3 linked regions of the Homo sapiens genome follow. The protein of the gene in region 1 purifies or fractionates together with the protein of each later gene. This does not show direct contact. Each region holds a gene or a part of one and is shown in the gene's direction. Other genes may lie near its edges.

What was found. Proteins that work in one complex are often made in the same cells at the same time.
Region 2: the proteins of ZNF550 (region 1) and ARK2N purify together in Homo sapiens (affinity purification with mass spectrometry; 2 studies listed by BioGRID and IntAct, with this or other methods). This does not show direct contact.
Region 3: the proteins of ZNF550 (region 1) and YTHDC2 purify together in Homo sapiens (co-immunoprecipitation; 3 studies listed by BioGRID and IntAct, with this or other methods). This does not show direct contact.

The regions. Positions count from the first base shown.
Region 1 is NC_000019.10:57,556,862-57,564,718, reverse strand, and holds the start of ZNF550 (zinc finger protein 550), read left to right. Parts: upstream 1-4,855; 5' UTR 4,856-5,036; coding exon 5,037-5,063; intron 5,064-7,857. UniProt on the Homo sapiens protein: May be involved in transcriptional regulation.
Region 2 is NC_000018.10:46,169,162-46,177,043, forward strand, and holds the start of ARK2N (protein ARK2N), read left to right. Parts: upstream 1-4,872; 5' UTR 4,873-5,169; intron 5,170-7,882. UniProt on the Homo sapiens protein: AMPK substrate important for exercise capacity and skeletal muscle function.
Region 3 is NC_000005.10:113,551,682-113,558,703, forward strand, and holds part of YTHDC2 (3'-5' RNA helicase YTHDC2), read left to right. Parts: intron 1-1,499; coding exon 1,500-1,678; intron 1,679-1,908; coding exon 1,909-2,005; intron 2,006-2,085; coding exon 2,086-2,173; intron 2,174-2,260; coding exon 2,261-2,341; exon of another isoform or gene 2,342-2,351; intron 2,352-4,370; coding exon 4,371-4,453; intron 4,454-7,022. UniProt on the Homo sapiens protein: 3'-5' RNA helicase that plays a key role in the male and female germline by promoting transition from mitotic to meiotic divisions in stem cells.

The DNA.
Region 1 (7,857 bases):
AGTTGCATTGGTGGCTTTGCTCGTGCCAGAGGCCACCAAGTTAATAATGGGAAATAACTGTTTGTTTGTTTTTTGTTTGTTTGAGACAGAGTCTCGTTCTGTCACCAGGCTGGAGTGCAATGGCGTGATCTCGGCTCATTGCAACCTCTGCCTCCTGGGTTCAAGCAATTCTTCTGCCTCAGCCTCCTGAGTAGCCGGCACTACAGGTGTGCACCACCATGCCCTGCTAACTTTTGTATTTTTAGTAGAGATGGGGTTTCACTATGTTGACCAGGATAGTCTTGATCTCTTGACCTTTTGATCCACCCACCTCAGCCTCCCAAAGTGCTGGGATTACAGGCATGAGCCACCGCACCCAGCCGGAAAATAACTGTTTAGACCCCACATAATATAGCAGGACTGCTATCCTCTAAGGGAAGTCTCTGGCTAACAGACAATTGCCTCTTCAAATATCAGGGCTTGCTGTTAGAGGGATCTACAGTCCAGTTAAAAACCTGTCCTTGCCTGAATCCAGCCACTTTCCCCAAAAGTAAACTGGAGAACCTGAACATGATTGTGAACAAAGAGTGATGCAAACCAGTAAAAAAAAAAAAAAGATAAGGATCATTGTTTATATTATCTGTAAAGTTTTAATTAGTAAAGAAGAATTTTATGAAAGAGCACTCAGCTTAATTAAAAGTGGATACCCAAGTTATAGGTGTCCTTGAAACGCCTTTATGTTTTTCTCTTCTTAGATCTTGTTTTTCTGGAAAAGGTTTGTATCTCAGTCAACTGAATTACTTTTCTCCACTCTGTCTTGCCAATCTTGGTGCATGCATGAAAGGCTCAAGGATGACTTCTGGTGGCCTTGGACTCCTTGAGAAAACAGACAAGGTGCCACAGATTCAATTTGGGGGAAATCTGTTTTCCTCATGGAACCCCAAGAATTAGAGATGGATAAATCCCTCTCAAAATCTGTTTTGGCCTTCGAGCTATGCCTGTTTATTAGGCCCCAGAAACTGCATGCTTTTGTAGCCTTATTCTTAAAGGGCTCCACCCTGAGCTGCTGGATCTTCTTCTGTCTGTGTAGTCATATATGTGTTGTGTGATGTCTATAAAAAAGAGCTGTAATTGATTGGCCTATAAGCACTTAGATCAAATAAAATTCTTTTTTTCCCAGACTGAGTCTTGCTCTGTCACCAGGCTGGAGTGCAGTAGTGCGATCTTGGCTCACTGCAACCTCCGCCTCCCAGGTTTAAGCAATTGCTCTGCCTCAGCCTCCCAAGTAGCTGGGATTACAGGCACGTGCCACCATGCCTGGCTAATTTTTTGTATTTTAGTAGAGATGGGGTTTCACCATGTTGGCCAAGATGGTCTCAATATCCTGACCTTATGATCCACCCACCTCAGCCTCCCAAAGTGTTGGGATTACAGGTGTGAGCCACTGCGCCTGGCCGATCAAATCTTTTTTGAAAGAATAGTAAAAACTGTAATTTCTCTTAGTTCATGTGACTTTAATCTTTAAAAATAAAACAGTCTTAGGGATTATTGGTAAAATACAAATGTACTCAAGATGTAAATATGTGGTCTAAATTATGCAGGTCAGATGGTAGGTTTGCTAAATGTTTTAAGGTTGTACTGCTCCTTTGGCCTTTAAGAACTGTTCAACTTGCCTGCTTCACAATGGGTAAAGTCTGGGAACATATGGAAGTAACCAAGCCCCTAACTTATTCTGGAAGGAGTTAAACTTTATCTGCACCCAGCAAATAATTAAAACAACTTACCAGGTTTTACACTAAAGTTAAAAATTGCTAAGAGGTAGGGCCAGGCGTGGTAGCTCACACATGTAATCCTAGCACTTTGGGAAGCTGAGGCGGACAGATCACGAGGTCAGGAGATTGAGACCATCCTGGCTAATGCGGTGAAACCCCATCTCTACTAAAAATACAAAAAATCAGCCTGGCATGGTGGCATGTGCCTGTAGTCCCAGCTACTTGGGAGGCTGAGGCAGGAGAATCGCTTGAACCTGGGAGGTGGTGGTTGCGGTGAACCAAGACTGTGCTACTGCACTCCAGCTTGGGTGACAGAGCAAGATTCCATCTTAAAAAAAAAATTGCTAAGAGTTACCATTATGACATGTAATTGAGACTACTGAATAGATTTACATGCAATGTGTGTAAAAACAGTAAAATGTGTTTTTTGTAAAAAATTATAAGAAGGCATGGCAATGTACGTTTTGCCTAGGGATAAAGAATTGTCTTAAAGTAGATAAAATACAACTGAAGGTTTAAGCAAACTGGGGAAAAAATTGTAAGAATTAATCTTGCAAAGGAAACTCTGTGTGAATATATTGACTACATTCAAAAGGGTATTATGTGGTTTTCTGTAAATTGAGCATTGAAATAAAAGCACAACAAAGAACTCTTAATGCATGAATCTACTCTTTAGCAAAATTTGTAAAGGGTTATAAAAGGTTTGTGAAAATCTCACCTCATTGTCAAACTGGTTAAGATTGGATAGAATTGCCTATAATTGTTTCATTAAAAATTGTGGTTGACATTAATAGTACACTAATGTAAGGGTGAAATTTGGCTTTCTCTCTCTTGAACACAATTTTCATGTAATAGTAAAGGCTAATGAAAGGTTTTTGCTTTTTCAAATTTTTGAGTCATCATTTTGGCAAAATAAATAACTTATAGTAATCTGGAATTCTAGTACATAACATCAAATATTTTAAGCCTGTTAACATATTTAACAGGCTTCCACAAATCAATTGTCTTTCTTGACACCTACGTTTTGGATGCTACAGAGGGTCCCTGGGGCATCCAGAAAAGAGGCAAGCAGGATTATTTGACATGTTTTGTTACATGGGATTGCCAAAATGATGTCTAATCTTCTTCAGGTTATATTTCAGCAAATACTATTAATATGTGTTCCAAAACTGCATGGGATTTAGAAAACTCTAATGTGAAAGTATACACTATCAACCACAATTAAGGTTGTTATGTTGTTATTGTAAACCACGGAGATAACCAAATTTTTTTTGTCAATCATGTTTTTGACTAACCACCCTGGACATTTTGTCATTTACAGACAATTGTTGTCTTGTTTTAATCCTCTTCAAAATATGGTTCATAATCAGATGTAGGAATACTTTAACAGGTATTCCTAAATGCAGGTTTCTGATAACTGAAAAACATACAGGACTCATGAAAAGCTAAAATGTTTATAAATATCAAGCAGAACAAGAGTTAACAGAATAGGCTGAACTAATAGAAAAACTGAAATAATCTTTTTGACTTTTGCTTGGAACATTGCTGATCCTTGTTTTGTTTTTCAGAGTCAAGGAAACTTCTTTTGAGCTAGCTACAGCCTTTAACAATTGAGTAAGGTTTACTCCTGAGAACAAAATTTGGAACATGTTTGTTTCTCTCTGCCTTATTGGTTCTTTAAGGACCACTGCAACATGGTCTTGGGAATTATACTTCAAGAAGCCTATAAGGTTAAAGGGTGTTTATACTCACAGTGATATAGGAATAGCACTGGGTGGTTGCAGGAGGATGGAAAAATTCGAACAACAAATAAAAACAAGAACTAGGCAAAGAAACCATAGGATAACAGAAAACCCAAAATAAGAGAAAGAATGGCCAAAATCCCAGTCAGGATGACATGTCCATGACTCTTCTGGGCAAAGCCAAATAAGAGAGAAAGGGGGCAGTAACCAGGTGGGTCCCTGAATTTCCCTCCTTTTCCAGAATACCTAATAATTATTCCACTCTCTAATTAAAGAAACACCCACAAAATAGGAATGCTGTGTGGTCACAGGAGAAGGGGGAAAACATCAAGCTGTTAAAATTAGCTACTCCAACAAGAAGACTGGGCTGATGAGACCTTAACAAACAGGATTGGGGCTAGGCTGTCCCATGACGCTAGATTTGACCCATTTCCTACCCCAGACCTAATTATACACTCATTGCCACATTAAATCACACACCCACCAGTGCCAGGCCAATCCAAGCACGCCCACATTTAGTATAAAAATGGTTGGCACCCCAATTCTAAGAAATTCCCACCTTTTCCTAGAAAAACCTCATGATTATCCCACCCCCTAATTAGAAGAGCCCATAAAATTAGAAACCCAAACTCCATTGTGCATGACCCGCTCTCCCTCGTACGTCCGCATTTCCCTCTTCTCTTGGGAAAAGTACACTCTTCTCAAAAATGTGTACTTTTTCTTCCCAATAAAAGCTTCTTGCCTTTGGCTTCATTTTGACTCATCCCTGCATTCTTTCTCACGATGGTGTCACGAAGCTGGACTCCGGAAGCGGGCGGGGACTCACGGCCCCTGGAGACCTTCCTGAGCCCTGGGCAACACCAGTCCACACAGAGGAGGCAGACGTCCCACAGACGGAACCCCACGAGCATGTCCCGGGAATGGCTCCACGCGGGAAGCGGGGGTCCAGATCCACGCCAGTCCCAGGGACAGTGCCTGGCGTCAGGGTGGAGGAGGACGCAGTAACCAGGCGTAAGATTTTACTGGTACATGGGAATGTCACTGGGTCACTCAGAGGAGGCAAGCGGGGAACCTCGTGGCAGGGCCCCCTTTATCAAACTCGTTTACCTGGGTGCCTGGGCGAGTGCTCACAGCCTGCTTGTAGGGACGTTGAGGCATCCGAATAATAGGAAGTTTTAAAAATTTACAATCCAGTGTGTACACTTGCTCCGCTAAGATCATCTGAGATATACAGAAACATGGTGTGCATAATAAAAAAGGAAAAAGAGCCAAGCCTGGCCTCTTACGGGACAAGACTACATTACCTAGAAGGCAGTGGGCCGGCGCAGGAAAAGGCGTGGCAGGCGACCGCGACACAGGGGCGGGACTTCCGGCCTCGCTGGCGTGGACGTTTGTGGTGGGGCGTGTTGGTCCGCGCTCTCAGAACTGTGCTGGGAAGGATGGTAGGGCGACTGGGGCTCACCTCCGCACCGTTGTAGGACCCGGGGTAGGGTTTTGAGCCCGTGGGAGCTGCCCCACGCGGCCTCGTCCTGCCAACGGTCGGATGGCGGAGACGAAGGACGCAGCGCAGGTGAGCAGACTGGCTCGGCTCCCCGCGGCCACCCGGCCTCAGTGTCCCGGGCCCGACGAGCGGAAGGACGGCGTTTCAGGGTCGTCCTCAGTGCAGTCCCTGCCGTTGCTTCTTAGAGGCCTAGAAGGGGGTCGCGCGGTCCCGGGTCCGGAATGCAGGCCCGCGGTGGCGTGGGGAGCGTCCCCGTTTCTGGGGTGCGCGGCGTTGTGGTATGAAATAGGGCTTTTAGGGTCCCGGAACCCCTCACAGGTGAGAGGAGCGACCGCAGTCCTCCTCGTGGCTCTTCCAACCATGTCCTTTCTCGGGCCTGCGACCTTGAACAAGTCCCGTTACTGTCCTCGTCCTTCATTTTTGCGCGCGCAAAGTAGAAATATTTACTCTTCCCCCCCCCGGGGTTGAGGAAGCTTGAACGGCTCCCTGGGTGATGTGTGTGTGTCCGTCTCAGTGCACAGCACGGTCCGGGGACGTCGCTCAGGATGTTGTTTCCGGAGCTGCTCCCTGGGCCTGTGCTAGGTTTGGAGACTCAACCCCAGCAGGAGTCTGACCCTCTGGCCTCCTTGGCCTCCTGTCTCTACAACACGAAGGGCAGCGGCTGAAAGAGGTGGGAGGAGCGTTTCTGCGGTTGCTGCTATGCCAGGGCAGAAAAGGTGGTAGGGCAGGCTGAGGAATTTGTCTTTCAGTTTAGGGCAAGGGACGCTGGGTTGCAACTAACAGTATATTTTCCTGTTTAAGACATTTAGTTACAGGTGAAAAACGAGTCCATTAAAATGTTCAGTGGCGATGGTATGCAGGATGTAGTGTCCCTTTGGAGATAACACATGAGGCCCAGGGTTACTCTCTAGCAGTCACTCTGATTACTTTCATGATAGCCCAGATTACTGTCAGCTCCTGTCGTAGTTGTTAATTTCTCATCCACCTCTCCCTCCTTTGCTTTATTTCTGACTCCCTCTGGTGTCCGCTGCTTAAAGAGGTCTCGTCTGTTGCACCGTTTAAAGCTGACCAGAGTCTCTTTGGTCTCCTTGCTCTGTTTTCTTGTCATCTGAATCTTTAAGGCCATCTGACATTGCCTTACTCATTTATTTAGTTGCCTGTTTAGGATCTTTTTCCAACCCTGGAATGTGAGTGCCTGTTGCTTCCCTCTCCCAAGACCCAGAACAGCCAGGCTTAAGTACATTTATTGTACTTAATAAATGGTTGATGATTGAATAGGCCTCTCTTATAGGGACTCTCATCACATTTCCAATAAATCCACCCCCTCCTACCAGCATGGTCTGCAAGGCTGTACTTGGTTTGCCCTTTTGACCGCATCTTCTTTCTCCTCTTCCATTGTCCCCTTTCTCACTGCATTCATCCAGGGAATCCTGAGCTTGCCAAGCTCTTTCCCATTTTCAGCCTTTGCCCTTGCACTTCCCTTTGTCTGAGACATTGTTCTCAGGTCTCTGCGGGGCTGCAGTTCCACACCCATCCTGGCAGTGCTGGCTGTAGCTAAAAGCACCCCTCACTCCCACCTGCCTGCTCTCTGGCAGCTTGGTGAGGTGTTTTAGCGGTGCTCAAATGCTGCTTTTGCTTTTTAAATGTGAGGCTGTGCCTGATTTCTAAAGCTCCCTGAGCCTTTGCTGACTGTGAAATGGAAGTGATAACGACATTTACCTCTGGGCCTGTCAGGGGATTAATAAAGTTCCCAAACACATCAGGCACTTACATGTGCTAGGCACTCCACTGATTGCCTAAGTGAACATTTTCTGTTTAGTTCTTAGAGCTGCCTGCTGAGATGGGAATAGTTATTGTGTTGATTCGGAAATCGAGCCTTAGAGAGATCATGTGACATCGTCATAGTCACATAGCTGGCAAGTGTCAGATTCAGGAGGCCTGATTTAAGTCAGGCCTTTATTTGCTTTACCACGGCTAAGGAAGCCTTAGCCTGGCAGGGACACAGTGAGGACCAGAGGACTTAGTGAAGGGTGCCTGCCCCTCTACACCTGTGGGTATTTCTTGCAAGGTGGAGATGAGAGACTGAGAAAAGAAATAAGACACAGAGACAAAGTATAGAGGAAGAAAAGTGGGCCCAGGGGACTGGCACTCAGCATATGGAGGACCCACACCAGCACCAGTCTCTGAGTTCTCTCAGTATTTATTGATCACTATCTCTACCATCTCCATGAGGGGGATGTGGCAGGACTATAGGGTAATGAGTGGGGAGAGGGTCAGCAGGAAAACATGTGAGCAAAGGACTCTGTGTCATAAATAAGTTTAAGGAAAGGTGCTGTGCCTCGATGTGCACGTAGGCCAGATTTATGTTTGACTTTACCCAAACATCTCAGTGCAGTAAAGAGCAGTATTGCCGCCAGCATGTCTTACCTCCAGCCATAAGGCGGCTTTCTCCTATCTCAGTAAATAGAATGTACGCTCGGGTTTTACACCAAGACATTCCATTCCCAGGGACAAGCAGGAGACAGATGCCTTCCTCTTATCTCAACTGCAAAGAGGCCTTCCTCTTTCATGAATCCTCGTCAGCACAGACCCTTTATGGGTGTCGGGCTGAGGGAAGGTAAGGTCTTTCCCTTCCCACGAGGCCACATCTCAGGCTGTCTCAGTGGGGGGAAACCTTGGACAATACCCAGGCTTTCTCGGGCAGAGGTCCCTGTGGCCTTCCGCAGTGCATTGTGTCCCTGGGTACCCGAGACGGGAGAATGGCGATGACTTTTACCAAGCATACTGCCTGCAAACACATGTTTACCAAGGCACATCCTGCACAGCCCTAACTCCATTAAACCTTGAGTCAATACAGCACATG
Region 2 (7,882 bases), on another chromosome or scaffold:
CTTTGCATTTATTTTCACTTTTTTTCCCCCATTTTCAGAACTTACAGACTTTCTAAATAGATGGAGTTTCAGGGGAATCACCTGGTTAGAAAGAGAGACTTGGAGCTGAGTTTCAGAGTACTTTACCCAAGACAGACCAGTCTTAATTGGCCAGCCCAGAGAACCAGGGTGGGGAGCTAGAGGTTTGTGGGGGAAAGGGGGCCCCCTCCCAGTCACCCTTGGCTACACTTTCATGGTATCCTTCTGCACTGTTCCATTCTGGTTCCACGTGAACCTGCTGCTCTGGAAAAATGAGTCTGTTGAGATGGAAATTTCACTGTATTTGACCACTGAGAGTCTGTGGCCTAGAAGGTGCTGGCCTGGAGTGCTGCCATCAGAGCGGCAGCCTCTTTCTAGAGCATTCTGTCTGAGCCGAGCATGGAGCTGAGAGCTGAAATCATGAGTCATTCTACCCTCACTCCTCCAGAGCCTGCAAGGGAGTACTGGGGGGTCATCCATGTCTGGCAGGCGAGGACAATGGGGCTCAGTGAGGTTACATAACTGCCTGAGGGTCACTCTGCTAGAGAGGTGGAACTCAGTCCAATGTCACATCTGTCAAACCCCAGAGCCCCTGGTCCTGACAACTGTCTGATCTTCCACTACTCAGAGTCCTTAGAATGCTTCTGGATGTCCTTGTGTTGGAGGAGGCCATTTAATCCTATGGAATGACGCTGTGAGGCAGAGCGAGTCATGTTAACCCTGGAAGCGGTGACTTGTCTGAGGTTCTGTGGCTACTATTGTGCAGAAGGTCAGCATTTCCCCAGAGGCCACTGCCTTCTAGCAGGTCCTGGGCGATCCTAGTGGGTGCTGGCTATGGTGGGGGTGGGTGGTTACGTTGAGGGAGGCCAGGTTGCCCCTTCTTCTTTTTGAGTCGGAGTCTCGCTGGAGTGCAGTGGCACAATTTCAGCTCACTGCAACCTCCGCCTCCCAGGTTCAAGCGATTCTCCTGCTTCAGCCTCCCGAGTAGCTGGGACTACAGGAGTGCACCACAACACCCGGCTAATTTTTTTTTTGAGACAGAGTCTCGCTCTGACGCCCAGGCTGGAGTTCAGTGGCGTGATCTGGGCTCACTGCAAGCTCCGCCTCCTGGGTTCAAGTGATTCTTCTGCCTCAGCCTCCTGAGTAGCTGGGACTACAGGTGCCTGCCACCATGCCTGGATAATTTGTTTTTGTATTTTTAGTAGAGACGGGGTTTCACCACGTTGGCCAGGCTGGTCTCAAACTCCTGACCTCATGACCCGCCCGCCTCGGCTTCCCAAAGTGCTGGGATTACAGGCATGAGCCACAGTGCCCAGCCTTTTCTTTTTTTTTTTTTTTTTTTTTGAGACAGAGTCTCGCTCTGCCACCCAGGCTAGAGTGCAGTGGCACAGTCTTGGCTCACTGCAACCTCCATCTCCAGGGTTCAAGTGATTCTCCTGTCTCAGCTTCCGGAGTAGCTGGGATTACAGGTGTGCACCACCACACCTGGCTAATTTTTTGTATTTTTAGTAGAGACGGGGTTTCACCATGTTGGCCAGGTTGGTCTTTTTTTTTTTTTTTTTTTTTTTTTTTTTTTGAGACGGAGTCTCGCTCTGTCGCCCAGGCCGGACTGCGGACTGCAGTGGCGCAATCTCGGCTCACTGCAAGCTCTGCCTCCCGGGTTCACGCCATTCTCCTGCCTCAGCCTCCCGAGTAGCTGGGACTACAGGCGCCCGCCACCGTGCCCGGCTAATTTTTTGTATTTTTAGTAGAGACGGGGTTTCACCTTGTTAGCCAGGATGGTCTCGATCTCCTGACCTCATGATCCACCCGCCTCGGCCTCCCAAAGTGCTGGGATTACAGGCGTGAGCCACCGCGCCCGGCCCAGGTTGGTCTTGAATTCCTGACCTCAGGTGATCTGCCCGCCTCAACCTCCCAAAGTGCTGGGATTATAGGCGTGAGCCACCGTGCCCGGCCTGTATTTTTTTTTTTTAGTAGAGATGGAGTTTCACCATGTTGGCCAGGCTGGTCTTGAACTCCCGACCTCAGGTGATCCGCCCACCTTGGCCTCCCAGTGTGCTAGGATTACAGGCGTGAGCCACCACGCCTGGCCTTAGGTTGCCCAATTCTTAGCAATCTGAGATGGAAGGGAGGGGGCAGCCCAGAGCCCAGAAATGAGGGTTCCCTCCCCTCGTCTCCCCCTACTTTCATCATCTCTAGAGTGGTTCTCATAATTGTGTCCATTTTACAGGGCAAATGGTAGAAGTAACCTGCTCAGTCAGGAGAGATCAGGTTACAGTCAAAGCCAGACCAGCCACGCCCTGATGCTACTGTCCAGGCCACCACAGCTGGCAGGTACCTGCTGCAGGCTTAGCCCCAGGCTAGGCGGTATATCAGGTGCAAAAAATGATGGTGAAGAGTGATTCTGACAGGCTTGGCTCTGGCCTCTAGGGCTATGACAGAAGTTGAGAGGATGACGAATATGGTTTAGTAGTAACCCTACAGATAGACCAAGGGCAGACATGTTTGTAGGAGAGTGTGTGTGAGCAGGGGAGTCCTGACCCACAGTGGAAGGCCAGGATGGAGGGGGTAATAAGGGTAGTGGTGACGGGGGTTGTGTCTGGGCTGAGCTGGTTTTATGGGAGAGATGGCATTTCAGGAGCTTGTAGAGCTAAGTATTGGATACACAGAAGACTTTGAGGCAGAAGTAGGATCCCTTCTGCTCCTACAGAAGAAGGGGAAGAAGCAAGTAACTGTACCATTTAATAATGGAAATATAGTAGTAATAAAAATATTAGTAATTAGGATATCAAATGCCCTAGCCTCCAAAAATATACAAAGGCCATTCGACGTAGGAAATTGACTTATTGGTATTAAACAGGAGAAGGGGCTGGGTGCGCTGGCTTACACCTGTAATCCCAGCACTTTGGGAGGCTGAGGTGGGTGGATAACCTGAGGTCAGGAGTTTGAGACTAGCCTGGCCAACATGGTGAAACCCCGTCTCTACTAAAAAACCAAAAAATTAGCTGGGTGTGGTGGCGTGCACCTGTAATCCCAGCTACTCGGGAGGCTGAGGCAGGAGAATCGCTTGAACTCGGGGGGCAGAGATTGCAGTGAGTCAAGATCGCGCCACTGAACTCCAGCCTGGGCGACAGAGCAAGACTCTGTCTCAAGAAAAAAACCAAAAAACCAAAACCAACCAACCAAACAAAAAACAAAGAAACAACAACCACAAAGCAAAAAACAAAAAACAAAAAACAGGAGAAGGACCCAAGATGGTATCTCAGTAGTCAGGGTCCTACTTCAGTATTTCTGCAGCATTGATTAGATCAGACTGTCAAGGAATCTTTTAAAAACTCAATGTATTAGTCCACATTCATTCATTTCCAGACTGAAAGTTGTGATCTTAGTGTGATTTTTCCTTTTCTTTTCTTTTTTTCCTGAAATAGGCTGGGCTCTTGTCACTACCCCATAACCTCTCAAATCCCTTGAGGACTCAGGTAGCAGAAAGTAAATAAATGAATGAACGAGTGAAATAACATACACGGATAAACTACTTAGCTAGCACACACTACGTTCTCTGTGATTCTCAGTGAGGCAGTTGGTGGCTGTGGTTAAGAAAGTAAGCTCTGCCTGTGTTGGAATCCAACACTGCCACTTACTTGGATGTGTCATCTTGGGCAGGTCACTCTGTCCCTCAGTTTCCACCTTTGCAATTTGGGACTAGTAACGCCATCCAACTCATAGGGTTGTTATGAGTTGTAATGAGGATTCAGTGGATTTAACCCATTTAAATGCAAGGTGCCTGGTATAATAAAATTATTTTCTTTTCTTAATTTATTCTTGTAGTTGGGGATGAAAAACTCGCACTCCTGTAGGCAGTCAGAAAAAATGAGTGAAGTGGGGGAACTAAGGGGCCTGGTCTGAAGGGGGAGACTGATATTTAGGGGAGTGCGGACCCAGTGGTGTGAGATTTTCAGAATCTCCTCTTGACGGGTCTCATCCGAGGTTCCAGCACAGCTCTGTAAAGGTAAAGACCGTTTACATTTTCCTCCTCAAAGCTTTATTATTATTATTTTTCTTCTCAAAACACTGCTTTGCTTTGGGGGAGCGCGGGTCCTTGGCCAGATCTTGAGTCTTGAGATATGTCTTCAGCATCTCCTGCTCCTCCTTGGGAAACGCTCCACCCGCCAGTGGGCCTGCGCCCTCCTCCCCTTCTTCGGGGTTCGGGTCCACCTCGTTTCCCCCACCCTCCCCAGGGCTGACTGCAAATCGGAGGGCGACTGCAGAGGCGGAATTCGGGGCAGAGCGGGGTCTCCCCAGCGGGCCACGTCCCACCAGCAGGTGGCGGTCGATCTGCAAGGCCTGCAAGGTGCCCGGACAGAAACTTGAGCAGATATTGGTGCCGCTGCCCGAGAAGAGCTCAGCCGAGTCTCCCCGAGCCCAGCTATCGGCATCCGCGAAAAAGCGGGGAGAGAAGGGCACGGGCTCTCCGCTGGAGCGACTCTGGGATTCAGACACCGCAAGCTGCTTTCGGAAGGGCTTCAGGAGGGGGTGAGTACTGAGCAGCGCACAGAAAAGGGAGCGCTGTCCTTTGCTGAAGGCATTGTCCTTGGCTTGCATTGAGTGGCTTTCCCACCCCCCGGGAAAGACATTTCGGGAAGGTGACGGTCTCAACAGAAGGAGGGAGCGCGGGAAAGAAGCCCGGGGAGCCGGCGCCTTCACGCCCCGCGGTCTGCAGCGGGAGGAGCGCGGGTTCCATCGCGCCAGATGGCGCTGTCTGGCTTTTCTCGGGCCTCGGGCGCCAGTCTCCAGAGGTCTCCGGCGCAGCTGCCTCTCTAGCCGGCCGACGCGGGCTCTGTGTTTCCGGGCGGAAGTGAGGCGCCCAGCGGAACGGCCTCTGGTGACATTTTCTTGGGGGCGGCGCGGACGACTGAAGGGACTTGGTGGTAGAGGCTGCGGAGGCGGCGAGGTTCACTTTGGTCCCGGCAGGGGCTCTGACCGCGACCCACTGCTCGCTGCCGGGGCTTGTTCCGAGGAGGAGAAGGCGGCGGTGGCCGTCGCGTCCTGAGTCACCGCAGCGGGGAAGAGTCCCGGCCGGGGGTTCGGTGCGTGCCCCGACGGGGCGCGCGCGAAGCGAGCGAGAAGGCACGGAGTCGCCGCGGAGCGCAGGTGAGGCGGGAAGGGGCGCAGGGCCGCGGCCTGGCTACTGGTCGAGTTGGGGGGCCCGGGTTGCGTCCCAGGGAGGGGTCGGGGCGAATCGGAGGGCTGCGGGCCGCGGTGAGGGCTCTGCGGCGTCCGGACGCTGGGGTCCTAGCGGGCCTGGCTGGTGGGCGCCGGGAACTCGCAGCCTGGATTGCCGGCTGACGCTGGGGCATCGCACCTCTCCGACCTCCTTGCTCGTCCGCCGTTGGTGACCCTAGCGTCCTCCCGGCCCGGCGGAGTTGGCTCCGGCACTCCAAGCCCCCAGACGCTGGGGCCGGGTTGAGGCGAGTCCTTTTCCGGGGGTGCTGAGGGGAGGCTGGAGGTGCCGCAGTCCCCGGGCTGCGGGGGGAAGCGACTTCACGGCCCTGGAGTTGTCTTCACGCAACTTTCCGGCTCCTAGGCCCGCGGGGGAAGCAGTGGCGGCAACTCCGCCAGCTCCGAGAGTAGGGGGTCTGGCGCCGACACCTGCCCCTGCAGCGGAGAGCTCCGGCGCCGCGGCCGCAGTGGCCTTGGTGGAGGGAGAAAAGGCTTTCTTATAGGCTTGGCGCCGCCTGCCTCTCGGCGCTTCCACTACCTTCGGTCGGCAGGCGCCTCCAGTCAATGCGAGAGATGTGTCAGTCTCCAAAATAGACCGCTTCTGGGGAGTTTGTCAACTTTATTTCAAAACCGGCGAGGATGTACACTGACGAACCCGTGTTAAAGACTATCGCCTTTACGCAAGCCATTCATTCTCACTTTAAAATTGTCCACCCCCCCGCCCCGACCCCCGTCCCCGGCAGCCCCCATCACAAAATTGATGCTCACAGGTTGAAGTAGAGAACATCGGTACGAGCCCTACCAGATCCTTGAGCAGTTTCTGTTTGGATGGGTTTTTCGTTTTTTGCCTGACCTTTTGCTTTCTGAATCCTCTTACCCAGTAGAATTAAAATCCTACTGATGATACTTCGTCAAGGTTGGACCTCTTAATTACAAAAACATCTGCCAATTTTGCTTAGGCTTTTATTGTGTAGTATTGGGTACATGCTAACAGAATCACTCCCTTTCTTCTCTTGGGATATTTTAAGGATGGAAGCTATTAACTTTCTAATGTAGTTTTGCTGATCTTGGCAATCTAGATTCCTCCAGTAATCAGAGCATTGCCTTTTGGTTTAACAAGCATTTTTAGAGGCCTACAATTGATAGTTACTGCCTGATGTCCTGAGGAGTCTCAGGACAAAAAAAAAAAAAACACATGGTTCAAGCAGTTATCCTGCCTCAGCCTCCCGAGTAGCTGGGATTACGGGCACGCGCCACCACGCCCAGCTAATTTTTGTATTTTTAGTAGAGACGGGGTTTTACCACGTTGGCCAAGCTGGTCTTGACCTCCTGACCTCGTGATCTGCCCGCCTTGGCTTCCCAAAGTGCTGGGATTACAGGCGTGAGCCGTGGCGCCTGGACTGAATCAGATTTCTTAATGGGAAAAAAAATTTTTTCTGACAACTTTTTGTGGAAAATAGGATGGACTGGATATTGGAGCTGGAAACTTTCTCCATTGTTAGAATAAGTTCACCGTGTAGTTGTTACTTATTCACTTTATATTTAACATGCATTTATGTGAGAGTAACTGTCATAATACTCTTTGTTTTATGGTTATGATTAATTCAAAACCCATATAGTAAAGATAAATTCAGCTTTAGGTTCTAATTTAATGCAGTTCCATTAGAACTGAGGGCTAATGCGTGTCCTTCAAAGGTTTCTTGCTTCTAATATTAATAGTGATATTGGTACTTTCAGTCTCTTTATTGTGTGACTAGTAAATTCTGTGCGCTTCTGTAGTTACTCATTATACAAGAAGTTGTTTTGTTGGGATTCCCAATCTTACAGCTTTTTTTGACACGTGCATGAACAGACTTGATAAATAGGCAATTTCAGTATTCTTCTTTCTAAAGTTTGGAATTCATGTACACTAGAGACCCAAACCTTTGGTAAATCATCTTAGATCTTCCTCATTTTCCTGCACATAACTGAGGATATGGAAATAGCATGTATTCATGTTTACTGAATAGACAGTACTTGAGAAAAACCTGTAAAGGTGAAAAATGTGTGTGTGTGTGCTTTTTTTTTTTTTTTTAAAGACACTCTTGCTCTGTCACCCAGGCTGGAGTGCAGTGGCATGATCACAGCTCACTGCAGCCTCAACCTCCCGAGCTCAAGCATTCCTCCCACCTCAGCCTCCGAAGTAGCTGAGACCACAGGCTCACGCCACCACACTCAGCTAATTTTTAATTTTTTTTTTTTTTGAGATGGAGTTTTGCTCTTGTTGCCCAGGCTGGAGTGCAATCTCCACTCACCGCAACCTCCACCTCCTGGGTTCAAGCGATTCTCTTGCCTCAGCCTACCAATTAGCTGGGATTACAGGCATGTGCCACCACGCCTGGCTAATTTTGTATTTTTAGTAGAGACGGGTTTTCTCTGTGTTGGTCAGGCTGGTCTCGAACTCCTGACCTCAGGCAATCTGCCTGCCTCGGCTCCCAGAGTGCTGGGATTACAGGTGTGAGCCACCACGGCTGGCTAATTTTTAAATTTTTTGTAGAGATGGAGTCTCCCTATGTTGCCCAGACTTGTCTTGAACTCTTGGGCTCAGGCAGTCCTCCTGCCTTGGCCTCCCAAAGTGTTGGGATTAGAGTTGTGAGCAACTGCA
Region 3 (7,022 bases), on another chromosome or scaffold:
CTACCATGGCACGTGTATACCTATGTAACAAACCTGCATGTTGTGCACATGTATCCCAGAACTTAAAGTATAATAAAACATTTACAAGAGCCAATTATTAAGTTGTAGAAGTTTAATATTTTTCCCATTGAAAATAGTCTTACGTTATTTTTCTGCTAAATTCTTTAAGAGAGATTGGATTTATTTGAACTTCCTAGAAATTCTGTTGATAATTGCTAGTGATAGCAGTAGTTTACATTTTTACATATAAGATGAAGAAGCAAGGCATTTATTTCAGTAATTTATGTTGATTCTTGCTTTTGGAAAATAGCATAATCAACTTGCTTTTAGTATAGAATTTTCTAATTAACAGTCATGTTAAGTTGGTACCTACTGAGTTTTTTAAAAATGTGAACTATACATCAGAATATTGTTTATAGTAGTAAACAATTAGATACAACCTATTAAGAAAATATAAATGATAGCTGAAAGTTTGTGGTTTTTAACAGTTTTATTGAGATATAATTAATATACCATATAATTCACCCATTTAGGTGACCAATTCAATGGTTTTTCATATGTTCACAGACTTATGCAATCATCACCACAATCAATTTTAGAACAGTTTCATCACCACAAAAAGAAACTTGTACCCATTAGGTGTCTCTCCCTATTCCGCCCCAACTCTCCTAGGCCTCCTCCAGCTTTAGACCAACCACTAATCTACTTCCAGTTTCTATAGATTTGTCTATTTTGGACATTTTATATAAATGAAATCATGTGATATGTGGTTTTTGTGATTGGCTTTTTTCAGTTAGCATAAAATATCCATGTTGTAGCACTATTTTTATGACTAATACATATTCTATGGATATACCAAGGTTTGTTTGTATATTTGTCAATTGATGAACACTTAGGTTGTTTCCACTTTCTGACTATGAATAATACTGGTATGAATATTTGTGTACAGATTTTTATGTGGATATATTTTTTTCATTTCTCTTATATATACACCTAGGAGTGGAATTGCTGGGGCATATGGTAACTCTATGTTTAACCTTTTGAAGAACTGCCACATTGTTTTCCAAAGCAGCTTTACCATTTTACATTTCCACCAGCAATGCATGAGGGTTTAAATTTCTCCACACCCTCTCCAACACTTGTTATTGTCTGTCTTTTTGATTGTAGTCATCCTAGTTGGTGTGAAGTGGTATTTCATTGTGGTTTTGATTTGCATTTCCCTGATAGCTAATGATGTTGAACATCTTTTCATGTGCTTATAGGCCATTTGTATATTTACTTTGGAGAAATGCCTTCAGATTGTGCTTTTCTAAAAGCATTCATTGCCAAATTTTACTTTGAATAATGTGCTTGAAATCAAAACATGAATCATATTATAGCTAGGACATTAAGTGTCACTTACCTTACCTTCCTTAGGGAATATTGGAAATTTGAAGGACATAAGGATTACTTTTGTTAATGGAAATTGACTTTGTCTTTTTTTTTTTTTTTTTTTTCAGTGCTACACTGGAATTTGGAAATCTAGATGAAAGTTCTCTGGTTCAAACAAATGGAAGTGACCTCAGTGCTGAAGACAGAGAGCTCCTGAAAGCTTATCATCATAGTTTCGATGATGAAAAAGTAGACTTGGATTTGATCATGCATCTTCTATACAATATCTGCCATAGTTGTGATGCTGGTAAATACGTGTTGTCTAAAAGAACTGGAGCAAAATATATACTTTAAGAATTAATATTTTAAGTGTACAAATTTTTATATAATTGCACTGATAGTAGTAAGTGAATAATCTCCTGTCATCTTATGATAGTTTACCAGTACTTGAAAACATGTGATACAGATTTTTATAATTCTGTTGATTGCCTCTGATTCACAATGAGATTTAATATTAAAAAGTCATTCTTCTCCAAGGTGCAGTACTAATTTTTCTGCCTGGATATGACGAAATTGTTGGACTGAGAGATCGCATCCTGTTTGATGACAAGCGGTTTGCTGACAGTACACATAGGTAAGGGCTAAAGCCTTATATCTGTTGCTTAAAATAACGGACAGGTCTTATAGTATGTTTTCTCTTTCAATTGTCTGCAGATACCAAGTCTTTATGCTTCATTCAAATATGCAAACATCCGATCAAAAGAAAGTATTAAAAAACCCACCTGCAGGTGTTCGAAAAATAGTAAGCTTCATAAAATCTTCTTTTTAACACTTTCATTAGTTATTTTTTCTGTTTTTTTATTAACTTTAAAGTAATATCTTGTTGCAGATTCTTTCCACCAATATTGCTGAAACCAGCATCACAGTCAATGATGTTGTCTTTGTTATTGATTCTGGTAAGGTGAAAGAGGTATGTATGGGTAAGTTGTAGTTTTACTTAAATGAAGAAGATTAAGTTCTACTTCAACAAATACTTTTATTTATTATTTAGTTGTTTTTCTTTTAATTTTACCTCTACTCAAGACAGCTTGGACCAGCGCATGCTTTTATAAGCAGAATTTACGAAAAATGTCTGGTTCTAGATAAATTTAACATACTAAATATTGATTTTACTAAATATTCTGCCTTAAATAATTCAGTATATAGAATCAATTTTTGTTATTTTAACAAAGTATACAAAAATGTAGCTCTGCTCACCAAATACTAGGAAGAAAGTAAAGGGTTTGGTTAGTTATAGTGAAAATGTTGTCACACAGTATGGGAATTTGATTACATATTTTTTATGTTTTCCTTCTACATATGCACATGGATTATGTCTTTGTTCACTGTTAAATCTTTAGTGCCTCACCTATAGCAGGTGTTCAAAAGATACTCAGTTCAAGAGAACCATGCTGAAAGAAAGCAAAGAAATAGATAAACCATGGGATAACCAGCAGCTAAATTGGACTTAACACTTGCTTTTGTAAAAAAAAAGTTTCATTGGAACTCAGCTAGTCTACTTTTACCTTTTCTCTATGGTTGCTGCCTTCATACTGCAAGGCAGATTGGAGTATTTGTAACAGAGACCCTCTCAAAGCCTAAAATATTTACTATTTGAAAGTCCTTTTCAAAAACAGCCAACCTTTGTTATAAAAAAAAAAAAGCCATTTATTTCCTTTTAGTACTGGAATGCCCAGCAGTTGTCCATGTTCCTAACTTTTGGTAGATAACATTCGCTGAAAAAATGAAAGTGGTAAAGATAATTGATTTTTCAAGGGAAGACATATTACTCATGTGTGGAAAGCAAATTATATCTATTTAGTGGATAAAAATGATCGTTTTTAATGTGAAAAAAGTAATTGCCTTATGTTTTCAATGTAATTTTAAGGAATATTTTATAGAAAATAAAATTTTATTATAAAAATTGGCCATATGCTTTATAATTGAATAAAGGTGGGATAAATTTTATTTTTATATAATAGTACATTAATGAGTATTATCACTAAAAATCTTAATGGTGAGCCAATGAAAATTCAGATTTTATTGCCCTAAAATTACCTAAAGTGGATAAAGTGGGTTTTGAATATTTTAGAAAGTTCCTTTAGGTGTTACTTATTTATTAAGTAACTGAAATTTAAAACATGGGTAGTGTCAAAAGTTATTTAACATACAAAATTGACAAATGTAATGTCATATTAAAAACCAAATAAGCTGTTTTCTAAAAATTTTATAAACTATTATGCAAACATTTTTATTTGCTCTATGCAGTTATTTTATGAAAGGGAAAGTATAAGTACCGAGTGACTGAAATACATGTTCTAGTTAGGCTTGTATTTCTTTAAAATATTTCTCTACAATAAATTTTCACTGTAGGTTATTTGAATAAGTATGTGGATAACAATGGTTCTTTTTTACTTTCTTCATTGTAACGTTCGGGAAAGGCTAACTTTGTTAGTAGCTCAGCAGGAAGTAAAGTGGAAGTGGTTAAAAATATTTCTCTTTGGGATAAGATTATTGATTGTTATTCTTACTCCACAAGGTTAGGTCCCTGAAAAGTATTTCAGAAAATGTCTTTCCTTGATCTTCTTATTCTGCACAGTGATGCAAATCTGATAGGAAAGTGACCTCAAGGGAATAGATCCGTTCTCTCCAATCTTGATGTCTTATGAGAACTGGCTGCCATTATCCAGCTGTGGCAGAGAGCAACAAATAGCTCAGCAGAGCACAGAATGGAGAAGTTTTACGCTCTTCTGAGTTTAGTTTTTAAATCCTTTTTTCTTAGTATGTTTGTAACCAGAAAATCAGGGTTTATTAAAAATCAGTACTGCTGTTTTAATTATTTAATCAAGAGAGGACTTTGAATTAAACTTTTGGCATGTTAAAATATGTTGATAACATTCTTGCTATTACCTTTTAAATACCTTTTATATTCTAACATAAAGATGGTTTAAATATTACAGAAATCCTTTGATGCTCTGAATTTTGTTACAATGTTAAAAATGGTATGGATTTCCAAAGCTAGTGCCATACAGCGGAAAGGCAGGTAATGTATATTTAATGTATATTCATTCAATTGCCTGTAAAATGGAAACGTTTTTATATGCATTACACATTTATCATATATTCCATGTTCAATAAAATAGTAGTTTTCATGTTAAAATTTTTATATTATTTTTGCAAAGCAAGCCATTTTGATACTTCCTTAAAAGTTGAATGTAGGTTATGTTAAAATTAAAAACTTTTGCCTAGTTAAATGTACATTCAGATGTAAGAAGCTTAAAAAACAAAACCAAAAATTCTAAACATATGCAATGTAGGACAAAGAGCTAATTTCCTTATTATATAAAGAAGCTCTTTGAAATCAACTAAAGGCCAATAATCCAGTTAAAATGGATAAAGGGCACAAATAGGCAATTTACCAAAATAAAAAATATGCATGTCCTACTAATACATTAACCTCACATATACTACCTAATATGTATCTAAATAAATGCAAATTAATGAGGTATTATTTTTTGAATCTCAGATGGGCATTGATGAAAATGTTTAACAGTATGTACAACATAGAGGAAAAACATGGGCCAATAGTCTTTCATATTTTACTGATGGGAGTATAGATTGGTGTGACTTCTTCAGAGTGCAATTTGAAACTATTTATCCAAATCTACTCTTTGACCATAGATTCCACTTGTCATAATTTATCCTGAGTATGCTTGCACACGTGTGCAAAGATGTATGTTTAAGACTGTTCTTTGAAGCATTGTTTATAATAATGTAAAGTCTGGGAACAGTGTGATGTCCATCAATACTGAAGTGATTAAATAAATTATAGCCACACAGTGGCTTTCTGGGTAGCTGTTAAAAGGAAAAATGTAGATCTGTGTGTTCTTATATGGAATGAGTTTTCAGGATGCATTGTTAATTGAAAGGATACAGAACATGCATCTAGTAGTCTTTTGTGGTAAGAAAAATATATGTGTGTTTGTGTATGTATTTTGACACAAATGCATCGAGAAGTCTGGGAGAAACATTAAAAAACAATGAATGATTGTTAACTCTGAGAAGGAGGATTTGTGGGGTTCTTGGAGTAAGGAGACAATTTTATTTTTTTTGTAATTTGGTTATTTTACTAAGTGTTTGGGTTACTTTTTAATTTTCAAAAGATAACATTAAAAAGTATCATTTTCAGTAAATATTTATCTTGCATTTTATTATAATTAGCAGGAAAACATGAAATGCTGACTTTCAAAGAATGCCTCATATACTGAAGACTCATGTGCATTATTTCTTTACTTTGTAACTTCATAGAATGCCCATGAGGGCTTTGTTGTTGTTATGTCAGTTGTTTTCTTATGACCAATAGTGGCTTGATACATTAAGCTGGATGTCCCTGCTATTAATAGTATATTATTGTGGGTAAGGCTGGGTGTAGTGGCTTATGCTTGTAATCCCAGCACTTTGGGAGCCTGAGGTGGAAGGATCACTTGAGTCTAAGAGTCTGAGACTAGCCTGGGCATCATAGTGAGACCTTGTCTCTACAAAAAATTAAAAAATCAGCTAGGTGTGGTGGCACAGGCCTGTGGGCCTAGCTACTTGGGAGGCTAAGGTGGGAGGATCATCTGATCCTGGGAGGTCGAGGCTGCAGCTGCCGTGAGCTGTGATCATACCACTCTACTCCAGCCGGAGCGACAGAGCCAGACACTGTCTCAAAAAAAATAAAATAACAAATAGTATATTATTGGAGATGAAGGCCAGAACTGCAAAAATTTTCATTGCCATTTTTCAACAAATGTTTATCAAAAGTCTTCCCTGTGCACATGTTACGGATAGTGATAAATAAACCATAGCCTGATAGGTAAAGCTGGAGGTAGGGCAAATGTTGCAGTCCATGTGGGAGTCCAGTAAATTAAGCAATTTTAATACAGTGTTATTTGTGCTACAACTGGATGTTTCCAGAGTTGTTAAGAATGAATCTGAGACAATTGTGAATAAAGGGGGAGGCATTTCTAAAAGGCAGAGGGAAAGTATAACCAGGTATACTTATTTGCCTAAAGGCAAGAGTGAATAGGGAGGATGTTTGGATAGAATTTAGTTTAGAGAATAGTGAAAAATGAGCTGAAAGTTGGGGACAAGTTTTTAAGGACCATTTTGAGTTTTCTCTCTTTTTTAAAAAAATAAACAGTGGGATGACATGAGTATAGTATTCTTTCAGCTCTCTGAAGAATGGATTGGCAGGAACAAAAATGATGGTAGGAGGACCCAGTAGGAGGCTTCTTCATTAATACTTTCCTATAATAAGGGAGAGATGAAAGTAGTCTGGATTGTTTTAGTGGTGGTGGAAATAAAAATAAATAGATAATTAATTCAAGAGATACTAAAGAAAGTAATGTTGGTGATTGATTGTGTATGTAGGGGGTGAGGGGTAAGGAAGAGAGTGGAGTTAAGGATGTCATCCAGGTTTCTGTCTTAAAAAATCGGACAGTAGTGCCATAGTCAGATAGGGAAAATTGGAAGAGTGTTTTCACTGGAGAGAATAATTAATTTTTGGTTATTTTGAGTTTGAGTTGCCTGTAGAAAATCGAAGTGGATTGGGAGGCTGAGGCGGGCAGATC